Regions from separate parts of the Homo sapiens genome. Here region 1 is linked to region 2. A link means that fine-mapping ties the variant in region 2 to the plasma level of a protein whose gene starts in the linked region. Region 2 holds a variant in brackets. A gene starts in the other region. All regions are shown on their forward strands.

Region 1 (8,281 bases), not on the chromosome of region 2:
TGTTTTGGAATTAAAAAGTCACTTTCTTTCTACCAGATCTCTCTCTTGTTAATTGGACTTTGCAAGCAGTGAGCAGCTGGACCTGTGTTCAGTTACAGTTTCTCAACTGAGAAATGGAACAACAAAGAGCATTTGCCTCTCATCAGGCAGTCTTAAGGATTCTGTGAGAGAAGCACACAATGGTGCTGGCATTTATGGACCACTCAGTGAGCCACAAATCTCACAGTCTTGATGGGGGATGTCTTTGTAGCAGAAGCTAATGATGGCTGAGGAGGAATAAGAGGTCATCATAACTGCACTTCAAGAGCAACCAAAATAATGGGTTTCAGGTCTGTGAGATGGGGTGGACTCGGGAATACTGAATAAATGAAGGTGACTTGAAGTCAAACCCTCTGAGAGTGATGTCCTACCTATAGGGTAGACATAAGTTGGTTCATAGTTTCATATCAGGGAACCCCAAAGAGTCATAATGGGTTTGTGTGACAGTTTGTATCCACTTGCTTCTAGCATGGCTGTGATGGCTCCAATGCCAACCACCTGGCAGTTTGAAGGCCTCAGCAGAAGTGTGCTGGCTCTACACTGGCTGTCATTGTGGTGCAACCTCAAGAGTTCTAATCTGTATGCACCATTAGCAGGGTACAAGGAGTCAGAGGCCCTAGAAGGGGAGGGCAACAAGTCCCAAAGCTGACTTGTTCATCCTCAGGGAGTTCCACATCCTCCAGAAACTGGCTGAGAGTGGCTCTACCTGCAGAGGTGCCCAATAGAATCATGCTGACCCCCAGAGGGTATAGAGGAGAACTGCAGTGGAGGGACAGTGGTAGGGGGCAGGGAGAAGGGTAGGTTGTGAACGAGAAGTTCTTAGGCAGAGCAAATAAATAGGAGCACAAAGATTTAACTCAGAGCAAGATGTACAGGACTGAATAATGTTTTTTCACAAGAATTTCAGTGAAAAATATCTTTACCAGAGCAACAGCAAAAACTAAAAGCAAATGGTATTCAAAGCTTTGCAAGGGCAAAGTCCCAGGTGGTGAGTGCAGTGTATGGGTGGGGCTGAAAAGAGGAAATGGGGTGGAAGACTGCATTGAGGCAATGGATGGGGACAGAAAGACCTTTTCAGCTGCTCTGCTGAATAGCATTTTCAAACCTTGCAGGGGATTGTAATTCTCAACAGGCCAGAAACTTTTCCCCAGAGCCAAGACTGGGGTTCAGAGGCCAAGTGACTGCCCAGCCTACATAGCAGGTATATAGCAAAGCCATGATTTCAATTTGGTCTTTCTGGCTATATAAGTCCTGCTCTTTCCAGTACATCATGCTGAACTAAGTTCTCTCTTACTCTTTTTAAAAAGAAAAGATCTCAAACTTCTGAAGAACATCTCAGTTTTCTGAGAAACTCTTGCTAAAGGAAAAGAAAGAGAATGAAGTGGCTGTTGCCCTGTTCTCTGAATGGTCGTAGGTGATTCACTTCAGGGAGCCTGCTGTCTTGGCATGATTCCACTAATGGTCAGAAACCTCCTGAATATTGATCGAGGTTTCCTCTAATTTCCATCCAGACAGACAGTGGAGTGATGGGTATCACAGGGTGGGACTCCTGGACCTTATGTGGGACAGAATGAATGCAAGAGACCAGACTTGCTCCTGAGCAAGTTCCAGGTAGGACCCCTGAATGTCTCCCTGGACACTCTTGTTCCATTCAAGGTGACAGCAGGATCTGCTTTTCCCACACTGTTCCTTAGAGCCCAAAGAGCCCCTTCCACTTGGTAGCCAGCATTCAATGGGCAAGGGAACAAGTCTCCCTTTCTTTAGATTTTGTCTTGGCTCATGTGAAGATTCTGTATATAGAATAAAATATTTTTCCCATTGACTTCCTTCACTGAGCACAGATTTAACTCAGAAAGAGTGAAATAAAATTAGCTTTATTTCACTCTTTATGATTAGAACAGTAATACATGCATTTTTAAAAAATCAAAACTAAATACTAAATCTAGAGCACGGGTTGGCAAATTATGGCCTGTGAGCTGGCCAACACTGTTTTGGTAAATAAAATGTTATTGGAACACAGCCATCCTCATTCGTTTACATATGGTCTATGGTTGTTTTCCTGCTACCACAGCAATGGCATTGAGTAGTTACGGCACACACCTGAAAAGCTTAGCCTATTTACTCTCTTGCCTTTTACAGGAAAAGCTTGCTGATTCCTGAGCTAGAGCTAGAGAAGCAATGAGGACACATGTTTATTCTGACCCTGCAGAAGTTTGTAGTTCTGACACATTCCTCTATAAATAGCTGTTTTCAGAGCTGTAAAAACATTCAGCATTCAGCCAGACAATAAAGAGGCATTACAGTCCTATGGGCAGGAAAACAATTCTCTCCAAATTGTTCTTTTCTTCAATCTGCATGTTATTGCCCTTCTTAAAGCCAGGCTTTTAAGGAAGAGGCAAGCATGTGGGGTCTTGAGAAGGCTAGGTGGTACCTGGTCACCCAGACATGCAAGTGGTGTTGGAAACAGGCTGCGTGACCTCAGAACATGTCAGCCTAGAGGGCAGTAATATTAGGACATCTTCACAGGCTTTCCAGAGCCACCTCTATAGAATCCTGGGGTAGTGGGGTGACTGATATGCCAGAGACCAAGAACAACAAAGACAAGGAGGACTCACCTGCCTGTTCAGTGACTGCATCTGTGAGGAGATCAAAAGCCAGAGATTAGCACACAGCATTTGCCCTCATAATTTATAAATTTATATTACTCTGGTAAATTGCTCAAAAACTTCTTTCCATTTTCCCTTTCTTTTCTATTTCCCTAATCTCTTATTACTAACAATTCAATCTCCCTCGAGCACACATCTAACTGTCATTCATTGTAGTCAAAAGGCAAGTTGCAAACCCAATGCTTGACTAAAGGGATTGTCGAGAATACCCATGTTGGATATTTAGTGACTCTCCTTGATTTCATTTTCCTTCCACCATCCCCACCACTCTATCTCACACTCTGACTTTTCAAGTGGTAGATAGACATGACAACACGATCACAAAGGGCTCATCAGGAAACATACATTGTGAGAGTTCCAAGAAATCAACAAATCAGTCTCTTTCCTATGGCCATATTTCACGTTAGAGCCCTTTGTATTCCAATAACAAATATTTATTTAGTGCCTACACAGCATAGAGAAAGGGATCTTATTTACTCTCTCACCCAGGCTGGAGTACAATGGTGCGATCTTGGCTCACCACAACCTCCACCTCCCGGGTTCAAGCAATTCTCCTGCCTCAGCTTCCCGAGTAGCTGGAATTACAGGTGCCCACCACCACGCCTGGCTAATTTTTGTATTTTTAGTAGAGATGAGGTTTCACCATGTTGGCCGGGGTGGTCTCGAACTCTGACCTCAAGTGATCCACCAGCCTTGGACTCCCAAAGTGCTAGGATTACAGGTATGAGCCACTGCACTCACCCAGGAATCTTATTTTCTAGCAGCAGCTGTCATCTCCCTCATTGTCCACGATTAAACAGAGGAATATTAGCAAAGGGTCTCAATGCATCTGCTGAACCCAAATCTTATAGATAACAATTGAATAATCGGTGTTCATGGAGGAGAAGGGCATTGCTAAATGCTAATATTATGAACATTTTACTATGAGAACATTATATTACTCAATGAGATCTAAGATATCAAAATAGCAATTCATGACCAGCAAATGGAAAAGTGGTCCACCTTGAACATTAAGCATTGTGCTTAATGCTTAATGGATGTGCTGCAAATTCACTGTCCTCAGCCTACTTCTTTGCATCTGCCTTTGAAGCCCAAGCTGCAGGCAGGACCTGAGCATCCCCACCAGTCCCTGGGCTCCAATAAAACCTCCAACCTTTTGGGAGCAGTAGACCTCATTCAGCTGCCACCTCACTTCTCAGTCAAATTATTGAACTCACCAAAGATGACCAGCAATGACCACAGCAGCATGAGGACCTAATCCAGCTATTTGAAAAGAGATGTACTCTTGGTCACCAACTGGAGACTCTGAGCAGGCGATGAAATGTGGTTTTCAGAATAGGTTTTGTATAATTAGCAAAAAAGGAAGTAGAATAGTGCCACTATGTTTAACCATTATCTTTGTCCTGGAAGGGCTAAAACAATTATAGCTGATCCTCTCAATGCCAGAGAAATTTTGTAACTTGACCCTCATTATGATACCTAGCATTTACATATGGGTTGCAATGAGTCAGACACAGTTCTAAGTGCCTCATGCTTACAGAGTTATTTATTACCTTCAGCAAGTTTCTGAATTGGCACTATCCCCTTTCACATGAATAAGGAAATTGAGGCACTAGTAAAGGTAAGTGTCTTAGTCCATTGGGGCTGCTATAAAGAATACCTTAGACTGAGAAATTTATAAACAACATAAATTTATCACTCATAGTTCAAGAGGCTGGGAAGTTTAAGATCAAGGCACCAGTAGATTCAGTGTCTGATGAGGGCCTGTTTCTCATAGATGGTGTCCTCTATGTGTCTTCACATGATGGAAGGAGCAAACAAGCTCCCTCAAGCCTCTTTTACAAGGAGACTAATCCTTTTCATAAGAGTTCCACACTCATGACCCCTAAAAGGTCATGTAATAAAAGGTGGGTACCTTTTATTACTATTGCATTGAGGATTAAGTATCAACATAAGAATTTTGCCAGGACACAAACATTCAGATGATAGCAGCCAGTAAAATGACCAAGATCAGCTTAATCAATTTCTAGTAGTAACAGATCTGGGATTCAAACCCAGGCAGCCCAGTGTCACAGTCTGGCTCTTAAACATTGTGCCCTATTATCTTGATATATTGCTTCTCAAGGTTCATAAAATAATAAGGCCATTGTTTCAATAGCTCATATTTCTTAAGTAAAATTTTTCGTAGTCATTCGATGACTTTCTAGAATGAGATTTTACTAAACTTCAAAACACTTGCACTATATTGCTGAAAACATTGCCATCTTTCTAATCTGTAATCACAACATTGCCTATTTCTAATCTGCATTGCTTTTTGTACCCCAGGCTGATCCTAATACAGTTATCTCACACAAAGCAAAGCGCGTGTTATGTGAACACCTATTATCATGCTCACTTTGATTAGATGTAGTCCCAGTAGATGTTGTCTCATCAGTGAACCTTATGCAGGATGAAACTCTAAACCAAAAAATCACAGGTGCTTATAAATGAGGGACTGACTGAAAATATTCATAGACTCAATGTTACCTGTTCAGGTACTTAACATTTACCTGAATACTTAACATTGAATTTTTAACAATTGGATACTTAACATTTTATTCTCACTATTATCATAGTTTTACTTTGAGAAAGGCTAATATTTATATGTGATGGTCATTAAAGCCTTGCTTATAATAATGTAAAAAGAAAATACTAAAAATATATCACAAGGAGAGATGTGTGTTAAAAATAAGTTATGTGTCAAATGCTGTGGAAAACCAAACAGCCATTAAAATAATTCTGTGGAATAATATTTAATAGCAAGATAAGATGTCTAGGATATATGATTAAGAAAAAAGTGGGCTGGGTGCGGTGGCTCACGCCTGTAATCTCAGCACTTTGGGAGGCTGAGGCGGGCGGATCACGAGGTCAGGAGATCAAGACCATCCTGGCTAACACGGTGAAACCCCATCTCAACTAAAAATACAAAAAATTAGCCGGGCGTGGTGGCAGGTGCCTGTAGTCCCAGCTGTTTGGGAGGCTGAGGCAGGAGAATGGTACAAACCCGGGAGGCAGAGCTTGCAGTGAGCCGAGATCGTGCCACTGCACTCCAGCTTGGGTGACAGAGCAAGACTCCGTCTCAAAAAAAAAAAAGAAAAGAAAAGAAAAGAAAAAAGTGGCTGCAGAGTGCACTTTATCTGCTGCACATTATCCCCTGCTCTCCAATAAAAAGTGTCTGAGACAATTCGCACCACAGAGTTACTGTAATTATATCCAAAAAATCTAATTAAAGCTGATTTTTATTTTCCTTATTTTGCTTATCTGTGTATTCTAGTATTCTTACAATAAACATATGCTATTTACGTACTTTTTAAAGATTCATTATAAGAAACTAGGTTTTATGGCCTCTCTCATCTTAAAGTGTTGAAAACAATACTACTTTAACTTTCTGCATAGGCAAACGGTTTGTATGTGTTTGAAAGTGTAAGTTACTCTTTCCCAGGACCAAAGCTAGTCACTGATCATCAAATCTTGCCTACTGAATGGGTTTCTAGGTGGCCTATAATTCCTTCCCATTCTGACCAACCTGGAAGCTATAGAAATTTTGTGGATGGGAGGGAATTAAGGAAAGGAGTACAAATAGGATCATGAAAAAGTTGATGGTAAATTGATGGTAGGTACAAGTTTTTCATAGACATCAAGGAGATTTTTCAAAATAATCCATATCCCTTCACTGATTTCTATATACCCTCTATGGAAATGTGGCCTCTTCAGTTAAGAATCAATATTTCTTAAGGTGTTACCAAATGATATGAGGTAAAATTCACAGTTGGTATAAAAGGTGCAGGTGGAAAGCAGCAGTAATGAGGTGTGTGGGCCACAGAGGTGGCAACAAATCCTCTAAGATGGCTAACATGTTTCATGTGGGTGCTACTCTGTATTTGACAGACGGCAGTAATTTACAAGTGAATAGGCATATCCTGGAAGCGTAGCTAAACTTGAATGCACAGTAGGCACTGTGACCAGAGATTAAGAGGCTTAATAGACACTTGGTGGGGGGTGGGGAAAGTAACTTAAAAATTAAGGCAATAGTGGCAGAAATAAAATTATGTTTGTAGGTTTGATCAAAGTGAGAGATAATACTTTTTGTGCAAGGATATTTTGCCACCAACAGGATGGAGTCACAGGTATCAGAAAGAACCAGCATTAGACATACATATAAATGCCTCTTGGATCAACCAGGTAAACCCTTAACATGGAGATTCCACAGGTGGTAACATACTGAAGCCTATTTTGCCAGATGCAGAGCAAGAGTCATCTCTGTGAACCGTGTTCAATGTCTTGAATGGAATACAAAATACAGTGCCAAGTTGGGGCATGCCAGAACTGAGACAGAGACAAATAGAGTCTTCATAAAATATGTCAGAATAAAACAAATCACACTTCCTGCTTGATGAATTTGATTACTAGGACAGTTAGAGTGGGAAAATAAGAAAATGAAACAGGCTAACTTCCAAGATCCCTAGATATAATCTTTTGAGCTTGGGGTTCCAAGGTCACTATGAGAGAATTAAATGTCATAATATATATAAATTACTTGTCATAATAATTGCTACATAAATGGCAGTAGAAGTAGTCATAGTCATGGTCATCATCATTGTTATGGCAGTAGTGGTAGTAGCAGTTTTAATAATTACAATAATTACCTTGAGCAGCATGATATGTCTTTGTTGAGTGGGGCTTTCCCTAATAACTTCCTGTCCAAGATAGTAACTAGATACTTTCCGAGTTCTATGGAGGTGATGTTGTTTGTTGAAGAACTTCTGGGACAGAACTGGCTAGACCAAATGTTGTCTATGCAGACACTCTCCAATGTAATTTAGACAGAGCCAGGCCCTTCTGCCCAGAAGATTTTTTACAATTAAATTTATTATATCTAGAAGTCCAGTAGGGCTCTGCATGGAGCAAATAGCATGAAAGAGAATTCAGAATGGGTATAAATGCTTGGAAGCTAGTGGTCATTACCTCCATGGAAGATAATGAAGATAGTGAAAGCCCAGAGAATCAGAGAAGGCCAAGAGTAAGTTGAAGTTTTAGATAGTGTATCTCTAGGGGACTGGAGTTTAACAAAGTTCGATTTTTTCCTTCGTCATGAAGATTATCAGTTCCTTTAGTAGCAATGGAAACTATGGTAAATCCTTACTAAAGAAGGTATTACTATTCCTACAGTGGAGGTGGAGGGGAACCCAGCCTTGGTGTCTGAGGGGAGGCAGAGAGGCAGAAAGACTTAGGGAGGCTCATAGAAGACATCAGAGCAGCACCTGTGGTGGTGAGCAGTCTTCTCTCCGTGTATGAAAATACTTCCTGGCAAGTTGCCTGGGTTCCATGAGAACAACAGGTGGGGAGGGATGTCTAGAGGTCAAATTCAGTTCAAAGCTTTCTGCTTCCTGTTTTAATTGTATATGTGTGGGTTTTCCAGAAGGTGGATGGGTTATGACTTTTCAGGCCAAGGGGAGCTGTGAACCATGGGTCATCAACTACACCAACCGTTAGTAGAATCACCCACAGCAGCTTTCTGTGGGTGTCTTTCTGGCAGG
Region 2 (8,336 bases):
TCCAGCACTCCTCCTGGCTGAATCCCACATGCAGCCAGGCTAGAGGGCTTTGCAAGTGGCAGGGGAACACCTCGATGCCCAGTTCTCGGGACCCTGCCTTACCTCCCATGCTAAGGGCATCAGGAGCCCGGGCAGCATCCATACCTCACCTCACCTCCCTCCCATGGTCCATGGGGTCACCAGGAAGGCCAGGCCCTGGGAGCACCAGTGGGGAGGCACCCCTCGCAGTGAACCTGAAAGTTTATTATCCAGTCCACACACACCCAACCTGTGCTGTGGGCAAGGTACTGTTCACAGGCTGGGGACACAGTACTTGTCCTCATTGAGAAGGTCCCCAAGGCCCAGCTACATAATTTCCAGGGCCTGGTGCAGAATGACACTGTAGGGCCTCTTGTTCAAAAATGTAAAAGATTTTGAAGGTAGGGATAGCAGGGGCCCTTCTCCCTGCACAGGTCCCAGCCCACGAAGCTGTGGGTGGGCACATTCTAGAACAGCACTAATGCCCTGTACATGGGGAGTGGGTCATTAGGCCTGAGCCACCCATGGGCCCTGGGTGAACTCAGGTGCAAGAAGTGACTTTGGAAAACATCCGTCCATTTCCCACTTTAGCACTGGAAACACCAGTGCGGAGAGAGGGGCTCTCAGCCTGCTCAGGGCTCAGGCAGGGCAGCGACCAGCACCCGCAACCTGCATCGGAGCCTGAGCGTTGCACTGCACCCCCTCCTCACCCTCCCTGCTTTGGAGAGGGTGCAGGCTGTGCAGGAGTGGAGGTCTGAATGAACTCAGGTGTGGACGTGTGTTGGGAAGACACTGCAAGGCCTGGCCCTGCCAGCAAGGTAAGGAAGAGAGGATGATGTGTGTCCCCACCCTAGGCCGAGAGGAGCCCCTGACAGTTAGCCTCACACATGGCTGAAAACCATTTAGAGAATTGACACTCTGACCTCAGCATCCTCTCAGTCCACAAAGATTGATTCCTGGGGACCATGCCGTTCTGTCTCTGGCTGGATTTTTCTTTTTTGAATTGAGGTAAAATACACGCCACATGAAATGTATCGTTTTAACCATCCCCCCTCTGCAGCCCCTGGCAACCGTCAATCTGCTTTTTGTCCCCACGGATTTGTCTATTCTGGACATTGCATCCAAATGGACTCCTATAGCATCTGGCTGGGTTTCAAATGATCCTGGCTTCCATTTGTTGAACGCTGATAATCCCTGTGTCAGCATATGCTGGGCGCTTCTATCCGCATTATCTCAGCTCATCCGCACAACAGCCTAACAGCTGGCACATCTCACAGAGGGGACAACTGCTCTCAGAGAAGCCATTCAGACAGCAGCTGGCAGTCCCCAAGCCCTCTGACCTCAAGGACCTCAAAGACTCTGGCGTGGCGGAGTCGAGCCGGCCGTGTCAGGGAAAGAGCGGGACTCATCTTTGTGTCCAAAATAATATGAGCAGTCACAGGGGAGCTCTGAGGGGCTCAACACCCTCATGTTCAGATGCGGAGAGGCCAAATGGTGGCAATGCCTAAGTCCTCGCCAGGAGGCAGTAGCAGAGCTGGGCAAGTAGGCGAAGAGTCTGGGGGGCTCCAGCCCCCCTCCAGCAGTCAGCCCCCAGTCTCTATCTCAGCACCCCCTGGGGAAGGCCCAGGGTAGAGCTGACTCTCCACCCACAGCCAAGGGAGGAGCCTGGCACCTCCTTCATTTCCTCTCCTCATTTAAAGAATTACCACCCCTGAGGGGTGTTTGCTTTTTGAGAGAGAGAGAGAGAGAAGAGAGAAGAGAGATTCGTCTGCACAGCTTGCGTATCCCATGGATGGCAGGAGTTAATAAGAGAGTCTTCTCCGCAATTAATACCCTTGTTTGGTCACAGGATGGGAGCATCGCCGTCCTCTGTTGATCTGCCTGGAAGACCAAACTCACCACCCAAAGCGGAACTCCCCTGGGGACGTTTTGTTCCCAGCATTCCATGGCAGCTGCAGAAACGGAACACAGCTTGCTCCTCCAGGGACCCGGCCAAGTGCCTTGGGTGGACAGGCCCAGGGATGCGGCAGGACAGCCAGGCCTGGGGGTCTGTGCAGGGAGGGGCAGCAGCTGAGCCCAAGATGGTGCCATTCAGGGCCCAATAACAGGTAAAGTATTATTAGTGAGGGTGCCAGGAATGAGAGCACTCATTGTGGGTGGCGTCGCCAAGTCAGAAAAGGATAAACCAGATGAATTCTCAGGTGCTCACTTGGTGTGGGAGGCCTGGGTTGAACTCACACACATAGGTGGATACAAAAACACATGTGTGGGTAGGTGGCTCTGCTCGCTGAGAGGGCCACAAGCAGCGTCCCCCCAGCAGCCATGAGCACAGTGCCCGCCCAGATCTTGGCCTGTCATGCTGTCCTCCATCAGGCTCCTTGGAGGAAGCGTCTGGAATCCTGTGTTGCACCATGAAATCAGGTGGCCTCAAAGAAGGGTTGGGACGTGTCACAGATATCCAGAAGCCACCCTGAATTGGCAAAATTGGGATGCTGTGAGCATCAACATAAACAATCGTAATAACAGACTGTAACCCAAAGAAGGAATAGGAAAGCATAAGTCCTTGCAGATATAAGCAAATGAATGAATCAATTGAACATGTGCTGAGCAATGGAATAATGGCATAATCTCAAAAATACTTATTCATGACAAAGGGGAAAATAGTACCTTTGCACTGGAGAAGCCTGATAGACATCATCTAATCGAGTAAGCCCTCCCCTGGGTGCCATTTCCCTGGCAACACCTATGCTCTCCCGCGCTGGGGCTTTGCTCACCTGTGCGTCACCTGACATGCCCTCCTCTCTGCTCTCGGCTATTAAAATCCTACCTATGATTCACACCTGGCTCCAAGGCCACACCCTCCCCAGCGCCTTCTCTGACCACTCCCACCAAAAGTGACTTTAGATCCTATTTCATTCATTCACTCAATGCTATTATGCTCCTACTGCATACTGAATGAGAGGATGCCACTGAGGATACAGGAAACACTGATCAGGGAGCTCCCCGGTCTGCAAGGGACAGTAGGCAGGTGACCCTCTCATGAAAGGGGCCTCTTGTGTTTTATGGCTGGGCTGGAGCTAAGGCAAGGTGGGAGTGGGGATGTTTCAGGTAAAGGTGTTGCAAGACAGTGGGTATGAGTCATCCCCAAGTCCTGAGCTCAGCGTGACTGGTCGGGTGGCAAGATGGAGAGGAGAGGAGAGTGGCACTGCTAGGAAGCCCCCTGTCAGGGAGACAGAATTCCATCCAGGACTTACGTGTCACTAGCATTTTGCTACAAACCAAATGGTCCTTGGTTGGCGGGAAGCCCAGTCTGGACCCTGGTCCACTGTGTGGGTTTGGGAAACCCCCTAACCTCTCTGAGTTTCCAGTTCTTCGTCTGTGACATCAGGGGCTGGGTTGAACAGTGTGTGGGTAAGCTGGAATCCAAGAATTCTACCTCTGGAAGGCAGTGCAGCAGGGCGAACAGGGTTCATGGGTCTCAAGGTCAAAGGGCCAGCTGAGGGAGAGCTGGACTGTGCATGCTTGGACCGGCTGGCTCTGGGCTCCAGAAGGGACTGCCGTGTGAGAATGTGAGTTCCCTGGGAGGAAGTTGTTGCCCAAGCCCCGCTGGAAAGCCAGACTGCCCTGCTCTCTGGGGGATTCTGGTGGGAGAGGGACCAGGCCCCTTGAGCTCCTGCTTGGCCTTAGCTGCTGTGTGTGAGCAGAGAGCAGCTCCAGGAGCAGGCTTGAGGCCTCTGGCTCTCGGCCTCCTTCGCAGCTGTCATTCAGACTCCGCAGCTTTCCTGTCTTGCTAGGAGCCTGCACTACCTCTTCCCACCTGTGGGCTCCCTCCTGGCTGCGCACAGGCCTGGCACCCGCAGGTGTTCACCTGAAGGGTGAGCCCCTAGTGGCTGGCTGACGTCTGTGGGGATTGGCATGGTGACTTCTGCCCAATGGCCTTGGTGCCTTATCCAGACATCCTCCACACCTCAGACTGGCGGGGCAGAGGCTGTCAGGGGAGCCCAGCAGTGTGTGTGGCCTCGGGACATGTGGCCTCGGGCTGCCCCCCTGCGCTTTCAGAGCACCTCCTTTGGACTGGAAGGTTTGGGGGCTTCTGGAATCCTCTGAGACCTGGCTGTACCTCAAGGCCTTTCACACCAGCCCCTTGGAACTGACATCAAGACCCTAAGGCCTCGGGGATTTAGGGGAGATGGCCAACGGAGTGGGGGCCATGAGACCCACAGGGGTATGGAAGGGCTGGAAAAAATCACAGCCTTAGGGGAGACAATGGCTTCCTGTGCTTCCTGGATTCTAACGGGGGTCCTGGAGCCTTGCAGCCCACCCCCTGCCCGGTCTCTCCCATCCCTCTCCTTCCTCCTCTGGCCTCGCTCCAGGGTCTGACAGCTGCGGGCTTGACTCCCAGCCCCACCACTCACTGTGTGCTCTCAGGGAAGTCACTTAACCTCTCAGAACCTCAGTTTCCTCATCTGTAGAATGGGTAGGAGAATAGCACATTTGAACCACAGAGATGAGTGGTTAAGGATGCCTTCCCGTGTCAGGCATGTCCCGTGGTGCCTGGCACGTGGTAAGTGGTCAGGTGAGTTCCA[C/T]TCCTCCTGACGTTGCTGTGGTCACCCCGTCCTCCCCTGATGGCAGGCGCTGGGGAAGCAGCTGTGGTCTGCAGAGGCTCAGGCCCTCCTGAGCCGCAGCCTTGTCTCAGCTCCAGCCAAGAGCTGCAGGAATGTGGCTTGCCATACCACAAACTGCTCTCTCGGGTGACCATGGAGATTCGGACTTCTCCTGTGAAAACTCCTGAATGTTAAGTGGAGGTAGTGCAGCGTTGGCAGTCACTGCCCTGCCCGTGTCCCCACCACGAGGATTGCCAGATGAAATGCAGATCAAGTGAGCCATGATCCCACCACTGCACTCCAGCCTGGGCAACACAGCAAGACCCCAACTAAAAAATACAGATTGTACAGGTTGCCAGTGAACTCTGATTAGGGATATTTATTAATTTACTTTCATAGGTCACTGTAACCTCGTGCTCTTGGGCTCATGAGATCCTCTTGCACTGATCCCCCAAAGCCCTGGGATTACAGGTGTGAGCCACGGCACCCAGCCTAAATTTGGATTTTTTTTTAGTATAAATACATACTAAATATTGCATGGGACACGCTTATCTGAAAATTTTATTTATTGTTTATTCAATATTGAAATTTAATAATAAAATTAATAAATTATTAATTTATGAAGGCCCTGTGTGCCTATGCGTGTGTGTGTGTGTGTGTGTTTATTTTCTCTCTTTATCTCTGGCAACGCTACCTGTGACTCTTCCCATTTCTGAGCATGCAAGCTCAGCTCCAACCATATCTGCACTTTTTGGCCCACAGACCTGCTCTGACCACTGGCACCCACAGCCAGGAAGGGCTGGGGAATACTCTCCTGAAACAGTGACATGCCTGGCGTATTCCACACAGGGACAGATCATTTTTTAACACTTCCCTTCTCTACATGACAAAATTACATTCAATACTAATCATGAAACAAAAGGAATAATATTAATAGCTAAAAAAGGAATGCAAGACCAGGTGCAGTGGCTCACGCCTGTAATCCAAGCACTTTGGGAGGCCAAGGCAGGTGGATCACTTGAGGTGAGGAGTTCGAGACCAGCCTGGACAACATGGTGAAACCCCGTGTCTACTAAAATTACAAAAATTAGCTGAGTGTGGTGGCGGGCGCCTGTAATCCCAGCTACTTGGGAGGCTGAGGCAGGAGAATTGCTTGAACGCAGGAGGCAGAGGTTGCAGTAGGCTGAGAGTGTGCCACTGCATTGCAGCCTGGGCAACAAGAGCAAAACTCTGTCTCCAAAAAAAAAAAAAGGAAATGCAGATGAGAATTTGCTTGCAATGACCTTTCTGTATGAAATCATGATGAGGAAAAATGGCATCAGAAAAGTGATAAAAACTTTCCTTCATGTTGATCAGTCACGATAATGGATAATGACATTATGGTTTCTATTTTCAGCTTTCTTTTCTGCAGTTGTGTCAAGTGATTTTGTCAACATTGGTCTTCCTCATGGACTTGTGTTGAATAGCCAGGCTTCAACACAGTGGGCTGAATAGTCAGCTCATATTCTCTCCTAGGGAATGGATGAGCATTGTTTATTAACTTCAATTTTGTAAAGTTTCTTTTTGATGAAGCAATGGGTACAAAATGTTAGAAAACGTCTTCAACGTAAGTATAACTTTGGTAGAGTTCTTTCTTTTTTCGAGACGGAGTTTCGCTCTTGTTGCCCAGGCTGGGGTACAGTGGTGCAGTCTTGGCTCACCGCAACCTCTGCCTCCCGGGTTCAAGCGATTCTCCTGCCTCAGCCTCCCGAGTAGCTGGGATTACAAGCATGTGCCACCACGCCTGGCTAATTTTGTATTTTTAGTAGAGACTAGGTTTCTCCATGTTGCTCAGGCTGGTCTTGAACTCTTGACCTCATGATCAGCCAGCCTCCGCCTCCCAAAGTGCTGGGATTACAGGCATGAGCCACTGCACCCGGCCTCTCAGAGATTTTTAAAAATCCCATTTCACAGTACATTCCAGAATGGGCAACATTGTCGAGGTCTTTATTTCTCTGGGATCAGTTCTAGCAGTTTTTGATTGCCTTCACCGTAGAGAAATATTGAGTGAAAATGGAAACTCCAAGTGAAAACGAAAACTCTAAGTGCTGATGAAAGTAACTCAAGCTCTGTCTTTTCGCCCTCACAGCCTCTGGGCTGTAGCTGCTTATTCTGAGTATCCTGCTGGGACCTAAGAACATGAGACCCAGAGGTTTAGAGACGGAAACTGCACCTGAATGAGCTGGAGAGGTCCTGGAGCATTAGGAATTCACTCTCGAAACAGACGCTTGTAGCTAAATATGCATGTCAGGGCTGAACCGGGTGGGAGTTTGCAGAACTAACTTCTACATGTACAATATAAAGTTTATTAAAGAATGAATAATAAAAAGTGTGAACTTGGAGCTTCACATATATCATTAAAACTCAACAGTTAACCCTGGAAATATTCTGGAACTTGAATGAACAAAAGATCTAGGAACCTGGAAAACATCTCTGATGATGTTTAGAATTGTCTGTGCATGGTAATAATAAAAACACTGATTTATAGTTGGTCATATTGAGAGGTGAAGCCGGTTGGGCTTCTGGGTGGAGTGGGGACTTGGAGAACTTTTCTGTCTAGCTAAAGGATTGTAAATGCACCAATCTGCGCTCTGTGTCTAGCTAAAGGTTTGTAAACACACCGATTAGCACTGTGTAAAATGGACCAATCAGCACTGTGTAAAATGGACCAATCAGCGCCCTGTGAAATGGACCAATCAGCAGGATGTGGGCGGGGTCAAATAAGGGAATAAAAGCTGGCCACCATGTGCCGCCAGTGGTAACCTGTTCAGTATGCTTCTGTGTGATGCTTGTTTTTTTTTTTTTTTGCTGTTTGCAATCTTGTTGCTGTTGGCTGTTTGGGTCTGCCCTGATTGTAAGACACCCATGGCAAAGTCTGCAGCTTCACACCTGGATGAAGTCAGCGAGACGGTGAGTCCACCAGGAGGAGTGAACAACTCCAGACCCGCCACCTTTATAGAGCTGTAACACTCATCGCGGAGCTCTGCAGCTTCACTCCTGAAGCCAACGAAACCACGAACCCACCAGGAGGAACGAACAGGTCTGGACGTGCCATTTTTAAGAGCTATAACGCTCACTGTGCAGGTCTGCAGCTTCACTTCTGAAACCAGCGAGACCACGAACCCACCAGGAGGAATGAGCAACTTTGGTTGCGCTACCTTTAAGAGCCGGAACACTGACTGCGAAGGTTTGTGGCTTCACCCCTGAAGTCAGCGAGACCACGAACCCACCACAAGGAAGAAACTCCGAACACATCTGAACATCTGAAGGAACAAATTCCGGACATGCCATCTTTAGGAACTGTAACACTCACCGCGAGGGTCTGTGGCTTCATTCTGGAAGGTAGCGAGACCAAGAACCCACTGGAAGGAGCAAATTCCAGACCCAATATTATTGTAGAATTCTCTCCAGAGTGTGGGTGTGGTGGCTCAGGCCTGTAATCTCAGAGCACTTTGGGAAGTCAAGTTGGAAGGATTGCTTAAGGCCAGGAGTTTGAGTCCAGTCTGGGCAACATAGTGAGACCCTGTCTCTGCAAAAAATTAAAAAATCCAGATGTGGTAATGTGTGCCTGTGTCCCAGCTTTTTTGGAGGCTGAGGTGGGAAAATGGCTTGAGACCAGGAGTTAAAAGCTATGAAGAGCTGTGATCATGTCATTGCACTCCATGTTAGGCAAGA

Alleles and levels. Positions count from the first base shown, and alleles are read on the strand shown. Strength reflects both the effect of a copy and how common the allele is.
For the plasma level of the protein whose gene starts at base 4,012 in region 1, allele T in region 2 goes with a higher level than allele C (weak association).

Evidence for each region. PIP is the chance, under the fine-mapping model, that this variant and not a neighbour inherited with it causes the effect. Protein levels are from antibody-based Olink assays in UK Biobank. Linkage for the fine-mapping came from a reference panel and not from the study's own genotypes, which makes the PIPs less certain.
Region 1: FCRL2 starts here. The variant in region 2 is fine-mapped to the plasma level of the FCRL2 protein (UK Biobank, PIP above 0.99).

Annotation. Positions count from the first base shown.
Region 1 is chr1:157,773,121-157,781,401 of GRCh38, forward strand. FCRL2 (Fc receptor like 2) reads right to left here and starts at 4,012. Exons shown (of 12, transcript NM_030764.4): 1 at 3,923-4,012; 2 at 2,655-2,675. The coding sequence starts at 3,953. RefSeq lists an enhancer at 7,934-7,993.
Region 2 is chr17:17,384,398-17,392,733 of GRCh38, forward strand. No RefSeq gene overlaps it. Among named protein-coding and RNA genes, the nearest start is that of NT5M, 85 kb to the left of the region's middle. RefSeq lists enhancers at 3,575-4,075, 7,638-7,867. The variant C/T (reference allele first, on the strand shown) is at 4,605.